Regions from separate parts of the Homo sapiens genome. Here region 2 is linked to region 1. The links come from fine-mapping of genetic effects on gene expression. A gene starts in region 1. The other region holds a variant in brackets. All regions are shown on one strand. Distances are from middle to middle.

The links. PIP is the estimated chance that this variant, and not a neighbour inherited with it, causes the effect.
Region 2: its variant is the best candidate, but not a certain one, in a credible set for the expression of CYFIP1 in lung (TOPMed, PIP 0.72).

What each region holds. Positions count from the first base shown.
Region 1 is chr15:22,978,621-22,982,873 of GRCh38, reverse strand. CYFIP1 (cytoplasmic FMR1 interacting protein 1) reads left to right here and starts at 2,506. Exons shown (of 31, transcript NM_014608.6): 1 at 2,506-2,587. RefSeq lists enhancers at 2,241-3,209, 3,210-4,177.
Region 2 is chr15:22,944,462-22,948,714 of GRCh38, reverse strand. It overlaps CYFIP1 (cytoplasmic FMR1 interacting protein 1), which reads left to right. Exons shown (of 31, transcript NM_014608.6): 2 at 1,424-1,546; 3 at 1,623-1,712; 4 at 3,776-3,853; 5 at 4,056-4,157. The coding sequence starts at 1,430. Among named protein-coding and RNA genes, the nearest start is that of CYFIP1, 34 kb to the left of the region's middle. RefSeq lists an enhancer at 903-1,587. The variant G/A (reference allele first, on the strand shown) is at 2,374.

The sequences.
Region 1 (4,253 bases):
GCAATGGCACGACCTTGGCTCACTGTAACCTCCGCCTCCCGGGTTCAAGTGATTCTCCTGCCTCAACCTCCCAAGTAGCTGGGATTACTGCAACCTTCGCCTCCCAGGTTGAAGCGATTCTCCTGCCTCAACCTCCCGAGTAGCTGGGATTACAGGCATGTGCCACCAGACCTGGCTAATTTTTTGTATTTTTGGTAGAAACAGGGTATGTTAGCCAGGCTGGTCTCGAACTCCTGACCTCAGATGACCTGCCCGCCTCAGCCTCCCAAAGTGTTGGAATTACAGGCGTGAGCCACCATGCCCGGCCTATTTTTTCATACTTAATTGACCCATTTATTTTTATCAAATGTCCTTTTTATCACTGATAGTGCCCCTTGAGTTGAATTCTACTTTGATATTAATATAATCACTCCACCTTTCTGATTAGCATGTCCTTTTGCATCTTTTTAATTTCAGCCTCTTTGTGTCCTTATATTTAAATTATGTCTTTTTTTTTTTTTTTTTTTGAGACCAGGTTTCACTCTTGTTGCTTAGGCTGGAGTTCAATGGCGCAATCTCAGCTAACTGCAACCTCTGCCTCCCGGGTTCAAGCGATTCTCCTGCCTCAGTCTCCTGAGTAGCTGGGATTATAGGCATGTGCCACCACACCCAGCTAATTTTGTATTTTTAGTAAAGACGGGGTTTTGCCATGTGGGTCAGGCTCGTCTTGAACTCCTGACCTCAGTTGATCCACCCGCGTTGGCCTCCGAAAGTGCTGGGATTAACAGGCATGAGTCACTGTGCCCGGCCAAAATTATGTCTTCTTAAAACAGAATATATTTGGGTCTCGTTTTTAATCCAATGTGACAATTTCTGTGTTTTAATCCATTTACAGTTAGTAAACGGATTACATGTTTAGTCCATTTACATTCAATGTGATTACTAATGTGGTTGAAGTCTAACTGCTTGCTCTTTGTCTTTGCCTTATGTGCTTTTTGCTCCTTCCTTCCTGCTTTCTTTTGGATCAAGCATATTTTTGTATTCTATTTTATCTCTTTTCTTGGATTTTTAGCTGTATTATTTTTTATTAATTGCTCTAGGGATTACAATATTTTATTATTTTAAGACGGAGTCTTGCTCTGTCGCCCAGGCCGGAGTGCAGCGACACGATCTTGGCTCACTGCAACCTCCACTTCCTGGGTTCAAGCGATTCTCCTGCCTCGGCCTCCCGAGTAGCTGGGATTACAAGCCCACACCACCATGCCCGACTAATTTTTGTATTTTTAGTAGAGACGGGGTCTTCACCATGTTGGCCAGTGTGGTCTCGAACGCCTGACCTCAGGTGATCCGCCCGCCTCGGACTCCCAAAATGCTGCGATTACAGGCGTGAGCCACTGCGCTCGGCCGGGATTACAATATTTTAAATTATCACAGTATAACTTGAATTTGGGTTCTATCATGTCATCTACAATGTAAAAACCTTTGGAATCTAATTTTGAGACTCCACCCTAGGCACAGAAAAGGAGTAATCTGCTGATTTGAAAATGTGTGGACTGGGAACCAGAATGTTATCCAAAGCCCCTGTTTTGCAGGAATGTGAGAAAGTGATATCCGAATATTGAGTCAACTGGTAGATTGTCTCAATCCGCTGGTCAGGATTCATTTGCTGCTTTTTGCCTTACCGCAGAGCACAAGCGGGGGTAACCAAACCTTCATAATCTAGAGACCAGACTAGAATATCTGATGCCCATCCTTACTGTTCTCCGTAAGAACCAGGGGTCGCGGATGAATGGGGAGTGAGGTTGCTGCGGCTGAGCGGGGCGTTTAGGGCAGTTTTCCTAAACACGCCTGTGACCAGCTGACTCCACTCAGCGTTTCCGTGTGAGGTATGTTTCTTCACCGGCCTTTCAAGATTGTTTTTTGGCACGAGCTCAAATCAGGTTTTCTTCCGTCCGCCGTTCCCGCAGGTCTGCGCACGGATTTGTCCCTGGTTCCCGCAGGCAATGGGGCCGCAGGGGCCGGCCGGGGGGGTCCCCAGCGGGCTCTGCGCGCCGACCTGCAGCTGGGACCCGCGCCTGGAACCCTCCCGACGAGCGCAGGTGAGCGCCTCCTGCCAAGTGGGGCGGCGCCACACGGGCGTCCTGGGTGTCCCCCTGAGCTCCTTCCGCAGCTCAGGCCAACCCCCGCCCTGACCCGGTGGAGCCCCGGGACAGGGTGCGGACCCCGTTCCTTCGCGCTCCGAACCGGACGGACCCGCAGGAGGACCCCACGCCCGCTCCGCTCCGACCCCGCCGTCCCGCGCAGGCTGCGGTGACCCAGGCCGGCAGGTAGCCAGGGGCTCTCTGCCTGGGAGGACACCTTCGGCGGCTGGCGTGGGGAAAGGGGCCGCCCGGCCGGGGATGCCCCGCCAGGAGGAGGGAGCGGCCGGGGCCGCGGCCGGGAGGGAGGAGCGCCGGGAGGAAGAGGCCGAGCCGGGAGAGCCCCCGCCCCGGGAGGAAGGGGAGGAGGCCGAGTGTTTCCTGGCGCATTCCCGGCCAGCCCGAGTGACTCACTCGGCCAAGGAAACTCCCAGGGCCCGCCCAGGACCCCCAAGCCGCCGCGGACGCAGGTGAGGAACCCCGCTCGCCCGCGCCTGCCCTGCGGCCTCCGCGGGGTCCGGGTCCCCCTCGGAACCTGGGCCGGCCAGGGCGGCGGCGGGGCCGGGACGGACCCCCCCCTCCCCCCCAACCCCGGCGGCGCGGCCTCCCCGGCGGCGCGGCCTCCGGGATCGTCCTGGTCCCCGCGTCCCCCAGGTCCCGGCCCCGGGCTCCCGCGCCTCCCGGGCTCCAGGTCCCCGCACTCCCTGCACTGGCTTCCCGGTCCCTGCGCCCCCGGCCTTTCGGCCTCGGCCCCGAGCTCCCCGCCCCCGCGTTCACCGCCTCGCGCCCCCGGATCCCGGATTCCGCGCCCCGGCACATGGCACAGCTCCAGTGGCGAAGGAATACCTTAGTGTTTGACGTTTTTGTTGGAAAGTAAGGAGCAGGCAGATTGTTAATGTTGCACTAAGGTCGCGCAGCAAGATCTGAACCCGTTTTTGTTTCGTGCCCCTGTGAGGAGCGGAGGGAGCCTGGTCCGCGGAGCCATTCCGGGCATTCTTGGAGAGAGGAGTTTTGGGCTTTGTTAAGGAGGCGCGATCGTTACGGAGGCAGCACTGTTTCGCACAAGCATCTGAATTGTGTATTTTAAGGCTGAAATGCGTGAGCTTAATTTGCAGCACATTGTGGGTGTGACAAGAAGGGTGCAAGAATAATCGGGAAACGGGGTTGATGGAACGTGTTTTAAGCTGAGAGGGGCGTCTGGACGGTGTCAGCTCCGCTATTAAGTCCAGTCAGGGAGCGGCTGCTGATTGAGCCCAGCGCCGCGTGGTCGCCGCTGGGGACTGAGGCTCGGGAGCGTTTGTTTTCTGGCGGCGGAGGGCACCGTGGCTGCGCCGGGAGCGGTGGTGTTTCTTGCAGTCGTCCGTCGGACTCCGGAATGAGGCGTGGTCGGAGCCGCGGTGATGCCTGGTGCAGTGCGCACATTGCTATGCTTGACAGCTTGGCGGCAGAGTCCCGGCCAGGCCGGGACCCGCGGGGGCCCCACGCATGCTGCCTTTTCCCTGCGGGTGGCCAGCGGTTTTCCAAGTGATGTCTAGATCTGCAGGCACGGAGCCTGGAAGAACGAGTCACGCTGTGAGTGGGCGCGGGCCGTAGCAGGTGTGCACTCGTAGGGCCAGTAGGGATATAGTGCCGGTGCCCTCACTGCGACCGAGGCGCCCTGGAGTCGTGGCGGAGGACGTTTCCTGCGTTAAGACAGGTGTCTGTGCTGCGCTCAAAGAAAATGTACCCCCTAAGTTTGTGTGTGTGTTTAAATTTATTTTAAACTTTTAGTAAGATTCACTTTTTGGTGTTCAGTTCAGTGAGCTGTAGCAGGTGCATGGACTGTAGTGACTTCCACCGCAGTCAGGATACTCAGGAAGGCAGCCTCTCTCCTCCCCGCTCTTGCAGCCGCCTGTCTGTTCCTCAGTCCTCCTGCTTTGCCCATTCCAGAATGTCACATGTGGGCTTGGAGTCTGGCTTGTTTCGCTTAGCATAAGGCGTTGGAGATTCAGCTATGCTCTGGTTTGTCCCTGAAGAGTAAAGATACAAGGGTCTGAAAAGTGTGGCTCTCGGATACAGCCTGAGAGAGAGACTAAAATGATAAAGTGATGAGAAAAATTACAAAACTATAGTTCATTAAAAACATTAAACAGCATA
Region 2 (4,253 bases), 34 kb after region 1:
TTCAGTTTGGGAGTGTTACAATCGTTAGAGCATTTCATAGCACAGTAGTTGCTTTAAAGTCGGGTGGATAATTGCAGCACCTGTGTTATTTTGGCATCTGTTGATTCTCTTTTCCTGTAGGAGCCCATACGTTCCTCGTTCTTTGTGTGCTGAGTAATCTGGGCTGTAAGTGGATGGTTGGATGTTATGATATGAGATCTGGGTCTTGTTAAAATCCTAGGAGGATGTTGATATTTTTATTTTAGAAAGCAAACACCCTGAGGAGACTTGGGCTGTGGTTCTGACTTGCCTTCAGTGGGTGGCAGCTCCATGTCAATTCTGGCTTCACAGCCTCCTGCACTGCCACTTGGACCTGCCCCCTGTGTGCCGCTGGTGGCTGTCTGGCTGTGGTCTCAGGGTTTGGGGTGTGAAGAGGATCAGATCCACACCCCTGCAGCTTGAGGATGGGCTTGAAGCTCATGAGCAATTTTGTCGGCTGGCTCTTCTGAGCTGCTTCCTCTCCACACTGCCACTGGGGCTTCCTGGGTCCCTGGAGAGCTTCCCTTCTCCACCCTCAGCCAGTGCAGTGGGACTGACTACCCGTTCCACTGTGCACCTCCATGCCTGCGCCAGTGCTGGAGGAGGGATTTGGGGCTCCTTCTGTTCAGTGTCTCCTCCAGGCCACCTGCTGCTCTTTCCTTCATAGAATGTGGCTCAGCTGCCCCTGGTCCCATCCCAGGGCAGAGCTCCTCCTGAGTACCCTTGAGACTGGAGCAGATTCAGCAGAAGGCAGATTGCCCCCTCTCCCTGGAGCTGGCTCTGAAGGTGTGTTTAGACGATGTCTGCCTTCATTTCTGCACCTCTGCTCCAGCTGCGGTGTGGCACTTTCTGTCCCCTGCGGCAGCCCCATACTCCTTGCAATCTCAGCCTGTCTGTGCAGCTAGACAGCTGGTGTTGGGCGGCAGGGCGCTCGTCTTTTCCATGTCAGGCCCTAGTGTGTTTGGAGGCACCACCTGGGAGGTGGCTGCATTTAGGGAGGCTCTGCTGGGCAGATGTGGCATTGGAGAGGTGCTGCCCCTCCAGCACTTTGAGGGGGTCGTCAGACCCTCGAGAGAGTCCTCAGCACCAGCAACTCAGGACGGCGGCCCCCATGGTGGGAAGGATGGCAGGAACCATGTGCCCCATACTGTGACCCTCCTGGAGGCCAGGAGAGCCTGTTCTCAGCGAGTGTGGAAGGATAAGCTGCACAGGGCCTCCCAGCCTGCTGGCCCACGTGCCCTGAGAGAGACACGCAACTCCCAAGGACTGATCATGCCCCTGTCAGCCATGTCCGGTGCCCTCGGGAGAGCGGGAAGGGGTTAGAGGCCTGGGTACCCAACCTCGAAGCTTGTTGGGTGTCCCCTCCTTCTCCTCACAGAACAGGGGTCCTTATGTGTTGTTCCAGCCCAGGATGGCGGCCCAGGTGACTCTGGAGGACGCGCTGTCCAACGTGGACCTCCTGGAGGAGCTGCCCCTGCCCGACCAGCAGCCCTGCATCGAGCCCCCGCCATCCTCGCTGCTCTACCAGGTGGGTGCCCAGCAGCTGCAGGGCGTACAGCCTGTGCTCCGACCCCACATGATGTTTTTCTCTTCCTTTCCTTCAGCCAAATTTCAACACTAACTTTGAAGACAGAAATGCATTTGTTACTGGCATCGCAAGATACATTGAACAAGCCACCGTCCACTCTAGCATGGTAATGTTGCGGTGTGTCTTTGTTTCTCTCTGCAGAGAAGGGCGTGTTTGAAGGACAGATGTATACTTTTTGGTATTATCCCAATAGACTATGCAGTGAGGAAAAAGAGAAGAAAATGAATGAAATGCCTTATATTTTTAAGACAGTCTTTGCTTTTCTTAGTGTAAAAACAATACATGCTGGTTCTGAAAATTCAATGTCTCTGGCCCAGAGAAAACCTTTGTCAGCGTTTCAAGGGTGCACCTGCCCTGTTAATGCTCATTCCCTCTCCAGATCTGCACCCACACACACCAGGTATGTGCCCATATGAGATTTAGATTTATAAATGAATTGCATTGTTATTATAGTTCTGCTTTTTTTTTGAGACAGAGTCTTGCTCTGCCACCCAGGCTGGAGTACAGTGGCGCGATCTTGGTTCACTGCAACCTCCGCCTCCCAGGTTCAAGCAGTTCTTGTGCCTCAGCCTCCCGAGTAGCTGGGACTACTGGCGCCCACCACTACGCCCAGCTAATTTGTGCATTTTTAGTAGAGACAGGGTTTCACCATGTTGGTCGGGCTGGTCTCGAATTCCTGACCTCAAGTGATCTGCCCACCTTAGCCTCCCAAAGTGCTGGGATTACAGGCATGAGCCACCACACCTAGCTAGTTCTGCATTTTAATG[G/A]TCTCATCAACAGGTTTTCTTTCTTTCTTTTTTTTTTTTGAGATGGTCTCACTCAGGTTGCCCAGGCTAGAGTGCAGTGGTGTGATTAGGGCTCACTGCAGCCTCAACCTCCCGGGTTCAAGCAATCCTCCCACCTCTGCCTCCTGAGTAGCTGGGACTACAGGCACACACCACCATGCCCATCTACTTTTTTGTGTTTTTTGTAGAGGCGAGGTCTCACCATGTTGCCCAGGTTGGTCTTGAATTCCTGGACTCAAGGAATCCGCCTGCCCAGCCTCCCAAAGTACTGGGATTACAGCCTGAGCCACTGCACCTGGACAAGAATATTTTCATGCCATGAAAATGTGCTAGAGAAAGCAATCCTTAATGGCTACGTAAACCATTTTGTAAATGTCCACAATTCAACTATTTTTGCGCATTGACTTCCTCTTTTATGTCGTGTAATAAAAAAATGCTGTAGGCTGGGCGCAGTGGCCCACGCCTGTAATCCCAGCATTTTGGGAGGCCAAAGTGGGCGGATCACCTAGGGTCAGGAGTTCGAGACCAGCCTGGCCAACATGGTGAAACCCTGTCTCTACAAAAAAAAAAAAATACAAAAATTAACCAGGCATGGTGGTGCGCACACCTGTAATCCCAGCTACTCAGGAGGCTGAGGCAAGAGAATTGCTTGAACCCGGGAGGCAGAGGTTGCAGTGAGCTGAGATCGTGCCACTGCACTCCAGCCTGGGGGACAGAGCAAGACTCGTCTCAAAAAAAAAAAAAAATACTGTGATGAACGTCTCACTAAATAAAGGCTAGATTTAAGAGCATCTATTTGATTTTTTCCAAAGGAAACGATGTTAAAGAGTGGAAAGCAAAAGCAGTTTTACAGCAGTGATGACAGTCCTCTTCCCATGGACTCTCTACCTAGATTTTAAGTGCTGTGGGCGTGCTCCTAACTTTTCCTCCTGCACACCCGGGGCTGGCAGCCCTGCCTCTAGTCCTCTCTGGGACCGGGAGGCCCTGTGAGCCAGTGAGGAGGCCATGGGGATCCTGTGTGTGCTCACACCGGGCAGGGCGTCTGCCCTGAGCCCTTCCTCTGTGTTCCTAACTGCAGGTCTCATGGCCAGCAGGTTGTTGAGGGCTGGGTGGAGCCAAGGTGTAACGCCTGTGGCACCCCTCAGAGATGCCTGCGTGTCACTGACACCCCTCTCGCCTGCAGAAGCCATGGGGTGTTTTGGGTGGTCATTGTGGCCCCCAGCGCCGCACCTCAGTGTCACTAGCTTCTGGCAGCCGTCTCTTGGCACACAGGCCACAGTGCTTAGGATAGTTTGTGGCGCTTTGTCTGGATTTTAGCAACTGGCATCTGCTTTTCATGCTAGTTCCCCCGCCTGCCTTTGATTTGCCCTGTGTTCCATTGCAGAACGAGATGCTGGAGGAGGGCCAAGAATATGCTGTCATGCTGTACACCTGGAGGAGCTGCTCCCGGGCCATCCCACAGGTGCCACGCTCGCCTGGCTCTTCCCCTCCAGCCACACCCTGCCAGGCCCCTGCCACACCACACCCCTGCCCCTGCCATGCCTGGCCCACTCTCCTCCCAGTTCTCACCCCACAGCAGGGCGGGATCACTAGCTCTAGAAGCCCAGCGGCTGCTTCTGGCTGGATCAAAGCCTCTTATGTCATCCTTGTTCCTTTATTCCCAGGTGAAATGTAACGAGCAGCCTAACAGAGTGGAAATCTACGAGAAAACCGTGGAGGTTCTGGAGCCTGAGGTCACAAAACTGATGAATTTCATGTACTTCCAGGTAAAATGGCAAATAATCTGGGGGGGGTGTAACACCGAGGGGTGGGTTGCTGACCCCTTCCTACCCATCACTGTCACTGTGAACACCCTGAACAGA